2 separate regions of the Homo sapiens genome follow, and region 2 is linked to region 1. Evidence: fine-mapped QTL for protein levels in blood plasma. Region 1 holds a variant in brackets. A gene starts in the other region. All regions are shown on their forward strands.

Evidence for each region. PIP is the posterior inclusion probability: the model's chance that the variant is causal. The UK Biobank Pharma Proteomics Project read protein levels with antibody pairs (Olink). The fine-mapping took linkage between variants from a reference panel, not from the people measured, so its PIPs are less certain.
Region 2: SCGB3A1 starts here. The variant in region 1 is fine-mapped to the plasma level of the SCGB3A1 protein (UK Biobank, PIP above 0.99).

The regions. Positions count from the first base shown.
Region 1 is chr12:11,877,446-11,880,347 of GRCh38, forward strand. The region is part of intron 5 of ETV6 (ETS variant transcription factor 6); the gene reads left to right. Among named protein-coding and RNA genes, the nearest start is that of BCL2L14, 190 kb to the right of the region's middle. RefSeq lists an enhancer at 792-1,589. The variant A/C (reference allele first, on the strand shown) is at 1,086.
Region 2 is chr5:180,590,125-180,593,026 of GRCh38, forward strand. It overlaps SCGB3A1 (secretoglobin family 3A member 1), which reads right to left and starts at 1,375. Exons shown (of 3, transcript NM_052863.3): 1 at 1,287-1,375; 2 at 476-714; 3 at 1-130. The coding sequence starts at 1,338. The coding sequence ends at 107. RefSeq lists enhancers at 1-236, 237-906, 907-1,576.

The DNA of each region.
Region 1 (2,902 bases):
GTGTGCAGACACATGTGCACCTTCGCACACATGCATCTGTGCATAAATATCTGTGTTTGCAGGAAAGAAAAGATAGGGTTGTGGGATGTCCCCAGAAGCCACAGGGATTCCAGTGTTTTAGTACCAGGTGAAAGAGCCGCTTCCTCCCACACTATCTCAGGGAGATGCCCTTCTGTAGACCTCTGTAGCCCAGTACCCTCAAGAGCTCCTGGAGACAGATGGCCCCGAACAGTCCTAGGGAAGCAGTGTGGGCCTGTGGCAAAAGCTTGGACTGCGAAGTCAGCATGATTGGAATCCGGTTCTTGACTCCCAAGCAGGTGCATAATGTCCCTGAGCCCTTCTTTCCTTATCTGTAATATTGAGAATAGTAATACCCATTTCTGGGCCCTTTTGACTGTTAATGAGACAACATGTGAATGCATGGCACAAGAAAGTTAATTGCTACGTGTCACTGTCCCCCCCTGCCTCACTGCTGAGCTGCCATCCTGCCCATCTGAGAGGGACTGTGTGGGAGCTGTGGGTACAGCCAGCACAACTGCCTGCAGAGCCACGCAGGGCACTGACAGGGAAGGCCTGTGTGGGGTGCCCTTCAAGGCCACCTCCGTTTTCTTATTTCCTTGGAGATTTACTTTTGTGCTCCTGCTTCCCCTCCCTGAAGCTTTGCCTGCTGTCCATATTTGGAGGGGATGAATAAGATGAGCACTGGGGAGGGGAGGAGCCATCACTCCAGCAGGAATATTCCCAGCGGCTGAGTCACTGCATTTGATTTTCAGTGTGAACAACTGAGAAATCAAAGAGCCCTAAAAGAGGAGGAAGTTTCAGGACAATGTTTTTAAAAGATAAAAAAACATCAACAGCATGGTGTCTGAGTGGAAAATAATAGAAGGGGCTTGAGGAGACTGGAAATTCCAGTTTGTGTAAGGGCGCACAGTGCTGTAATACAGAGTCCTACCTCCCTGCAGTCCCTGGATGTGAATTCCCAGGCTGCACCCACACCTGAGCAAAGCGGAGGCTGGGCCTTATTAGGTTCTGACTGCGGGCTGGATCTCAGCTGCAGGCTGTGAGTTTCGGATACCGGTGTTTCC[A/C]AGCCTTCTCCACACCTTATGTAATCACAGGTGAAAAGGTCCAGCCTCATTTGCAGCTGTGGTTCTTCTGCCCCAGGAAGCCAGGAAGCGTAGATTTTTGTATTATTTGCCTCCACTTCTCCCTCCCCCAGCGTGCCACCGTGCACATATGTTTTCTGTTTTCCTAAGCCACGGCAAAGCACAAGCAATTGCCCATTGTAAACACACCTCTGCGTATCAACACACACCTGGCTGCACTGGATTGACCAACTTTCTGCTTCTAGGTAATGGCTGATCTAGAATAGAGGAGGAGGAGGGGAAAAAAAAAAAAAACAAGCAGCAGATGGCCCCCTGAATGTTGTAAACCGTGTTTCTCTAAGCAGGGTTTCTCAACACTCTCGATATTTGGGCCAAATAATAATTTGTGGGGTTGCTTACTATATTGTAAGAGATTCAGCAGCATCCCTGGCCTCTACCCACTAGATGCTAGGAGCACCCTGCACCCCAGTGTGACAACCAGAAATGCCTCCAGATATTGCCACATGCCCCCAGTTCAGAACCATATTTGTAAAGCTTAGTAGCAACTTTTTTTTTCATATGCTACTTTGCGTGTTTTGTTGCTGAACTGGAAATAAACGTTAATTTTTAGGTAATAAATTTCAAAAAATGTAACAGGGACACTCAGCCTCTCTTCTGGTAATTATGCCCATGACACTGTCATTTGCAGGCCTTCTTTAAAATTCCACTTGGGCAGTTAAAAGAACATAAAATGACTTTCTTAGAAGCTTTCCTGAAATTTAAATTAACCACAATCATTAAACATTCCCTATGTCAATAATTTGACTTTCCTACTCAAAGTTTTTTAAGGCATCAGTTTTGTCTAGCGTGGTTTTTTTCTTTAGAAACCATGTTGGTTATGTGTGAATTGCCCATCTTTTTACAATCTCTGCTCAATAAGTTTATACAATGAGTCTCTGGTAAGAGACAGACGTGGGAGTGAAAATATTTCTCCTTAACCACAGGAAGGGATTTTTTACAATGCCTTTAGCTGCGGATACCGAGGGTACCTCACCCAGCAGGAAGGAGAGGGAACTATACTTGGGCTAAACACTTTCATAAACTACTTCTCATGGAAAAGAAAATCCAAATAGTGGAAATTTCTTTAAAATATCCATGTGCCTTGAGATAGAAGAAAGCCCTTTCGTTTAAGAAAAATGCACTTAAAATTAATGAATACCTTGTGATCCAAAAACATTTTATACATATACGTTCAGGTGTTTTGAAGTGGAGTGAACTTCTATTTATAGAGTGTGTTGCGCTTTATTATATAGTATTATGCATTTACATTGATGATCAAAGAACATTGTATCTGTGCAGGCATGGGTTCCGAAAAGGCTGAAAAATTCCAGGTGAGCCGTGGCAACAACCTCTAAAGGATCTAGGAACCTAAAGAGGATCTGCCTTTTATTTAATAGAAATCTTAGAAACAAAAATAACTGACATGGCTTGAATGTCAATTGTTTAAAAAAAAAAAAAAAAAAAGGAAAAAAAATCTATTGTGTGGTCAGGCAGTTATTTTTATCATCTAGGCATAATTTTTACCAAAGAAACAAAACAATCAATAATGTTATAAAAGCCACTTATACTCTGAGCTTGAAACAACTGCTTTATGCCACAAAATTCCTATTGCTGTCTCCGTTAGTGACTAATTCAATATGTCCTGAATGTCAACGTATTTTTATTACTCAGCTAAAGTTGGCTTTGCTGGATTAAATGTCATTTAAAATGATCAATTGGCAGCTTGTTTGGGGTTGTTTTCACATTTATGAAAGGAAAAG
Region 2 (2,902 bases), not on the chromosome of region 1:
GAGAGGGGCCGGGGGAAGGGGATGGACGGTCCTCCCCGCGGCGGGGTTTTCAGCCCTCGCGGGTGGGCAGCGTCTTGTCCTCAGGTGTAGATGCTCCAGTCTCGGCTCAGCCAAACACTGTCAGGGCCCCCTGGAAAGCAGAAGCCGAGCTTGAGTGCCCCCAGCCCTGCCACCAAGAACTCAGGCGGGGGCGCGGCAGCGGCCGGCTCTGTGGGGAGCGGGAGCGGGGCGGTTCCGCTGGCGTCTCCGGGGGACGCGCACCCGCGCGGGGCCATCTCCGCCTTCCCCGCCCCTGCAGCTCGGATGCGCCCCACCCAGTTCCCACCCGGAGACCCGGGCTTCTCCCAGGGACAGGGCTTGGAGGGGCAGGACGGGAAACAGCCCTGACGTAGGGCCGGGACACCTCTGGTGCAGTTTTGAGGCTGGCCGGGAAGGGATGCCCGCGCAGGAAGGGCACCCGGGGTGCCCACTTTACCAGCAGGGCCTTCAGGGCCTTCACGGCCCCCACGGCCTGGGGACCCAGCTCAGCCACACACTTCTGGGAGCCCTCTATGAGGTGGTTCACGGGGATGCCCAGGCTGCTCAGCAGGAGCTTCAGCGGGTTGAGGGTGCCGAGGGGGTTGGCCAGGGTCCCGGCCCCGGCCTCCGCCGCCGACTCCAGCGCAGCGACAGGCTGGGCCACAGGCTTGGCCGAGCCCACTAAGAAAGCAGCAGCTGCAAGCGAACAGGGAGGGGTCACCGCCTGCGCGCCGGGGTCCCCAGAAGGCAGGTCCAGGACGCGCCCCCGCGGGAGGCGCCCAGGAACCGTCGCGCCCTGCCCGGCTCCCCGACCGCCCCTCCCTCCTGCGCCGAGGCCTGCCAGGTGCGAGCCCCCGGGACACAGGCGGGTCTGGGGAGGCGGCCCCGCCAGGAGACGCTGCAGGGTCACCGGAGTGGCCTGAGGGTGGCGGAAGGACCGGTGAACTCTGTGCAGGGTCCGGGACAGGCCCCCAAGGGAGGGGACACTCGCGCTGCGCCTTGCAGGATGAGGAGCCGGTCTCCAGACGGGGGGCAGACGGGTGTCCCCAGGCCAGGGGCGGCCTCCATCCCGGCACGAGGCTGGAGACAGCCCTGAGAGGGGGAGGCCGCGGGCTGCAGGCGCGGGGCCCCGGGGTGGCGGAGCCCTCTGGGCGCCGGGCGAGGCTGGAAGGACCTGGGATCCACGATCGGCGCAGGCAGCGGCGGGGGCGCAGCGGGCGCCGAGGCCTCAGGCCCCACCGTGCGCGCCAGGAGCCCGGGGCGCTCACCGGAGCTGCAGGACAGGGCCACGCAGAGCCCCAGGAGGGCGGCGAGCTTCATGGCGCGGGGGCTCGGGGCGCGCGGGGAACCTGCGGCTGCCCGGGCAAGGCCACGAGGCTTCTTATACCCGGTCCTCGCCCCTCCAGCGCCGGCCTCGCCCGCGCTCCTGAGAAAGCCCTGCCCGCTCCGCTCACGGCCGTGCCCTGGCCAACTTCCTGCTGCGGCCGGCGGGCCCTGGGAAGCCCGTGCCCCCTTCCCTGCCCGGGCCTCGAGGACTTCCTCTTGGCAGGCGCTGGGGCCCTCTGAGAGCAGGCAGGCCCGGCCTTTGTCTCCGCGAGGCCCACCCCGGCCCGCACCTTCGCTTTGCGGTCTGACCCCACGCGCCCCCCTGCAGGGCTGGGCCCGGGTGAGGGGAGCTTCCCTCGCGCCAGGGCAGGGGCGGGGGCGGCGCAGTTCCTGGCTCCCTGGTCCCTGCCTCTGATCCCAGACCGTGGCAACGTCGGGCACTGGGGGTCCTCGTGGGCGCCTTCTGCGCCTGGGGAGGTGGAGGCGCCAGGGACGATCAGGCCTCACTCCCGGCCGCCTCCCCGGCCGGGCCACAGGCAGCCACAGTGCAAACAGAAGTGGGGCGTTTTTCTGTCTTCGAAACTAGCCTCGACGCCAGTGGATGGGCCTGGTTTGTTCCTGAGTTTCTCTAAATGTCCTCACTCGTCTGTCACCTGCAGAAGTATGACAGATGGAGAGCAAAGCACATTTTGAAAACTTTTGCAAATGATACATAAACTAATTTGCTTTTAGTCCTTCTTCTTTCCTCTATTTTTTGACCCCAGGCATTGAGCACTGAGTGACTCACGTTTTGCTGCGTGGCTGCTCTCAGCTAGGTTGGTGCAAAGTCTCTCTTTTCTTTTGTAAAGTGTAGCTGGCACGCGTGGGAAACAGGCTCCCGGGTGGGAGGACCTGACTCTTCAGGCAGTGTCCTGGAATTCCTTCCCTATGGCTGACAGCACGTCTTAGCCCTCAGCCACCCCGAGCTACTGCGGCCTCCTCCGCACCTGCAGACACTTGTGCCTTTGCCAACTGTTGTGGCCAGGCACACGCATTCACACTGTTTCTGTTCACTTACACTTTTCCTTGACTATTTTGTTTGGGGGATTTTTGCATTATAAATCTGGAGTTTGGTTGTGTTTTGTTGGTCATCATGGAAGTAATTTTAATGGGAAATACGTTTTCTTTTTTAAAAACAGTTTGAAGTTAATTACTTTTTTGGTGGTGGTAAAGACACTGTCTTGCCGTGTTGCCCAGGCTGGTCTCGAACTCCTGAGCTCAAGCAATCCTCCCACCTCAGACTCCCAAGTAGCTGGGACTAGAGGTGTGAGCCACCACACTCAGCGGATTTTGATTTTGTTTTTTGTTTGTTTGTTTTTTGAGACAGTCTCACTCTGTCGCCCAGGCTGGAGTGTAGTGAGGTGATCTTGGTTCACTGCAGCCTCCACCTCCCAGGCTCAAGCAATTCTCCCACCTCAGCCTCCCAAGCAGGTGGGGCTATAGGTGTGCACCACTATGTCCAGCTAATTTTGTTTATTTTTTGTAGAGACAAAGTCTCACTGTGTTGCCCAGACTGGTC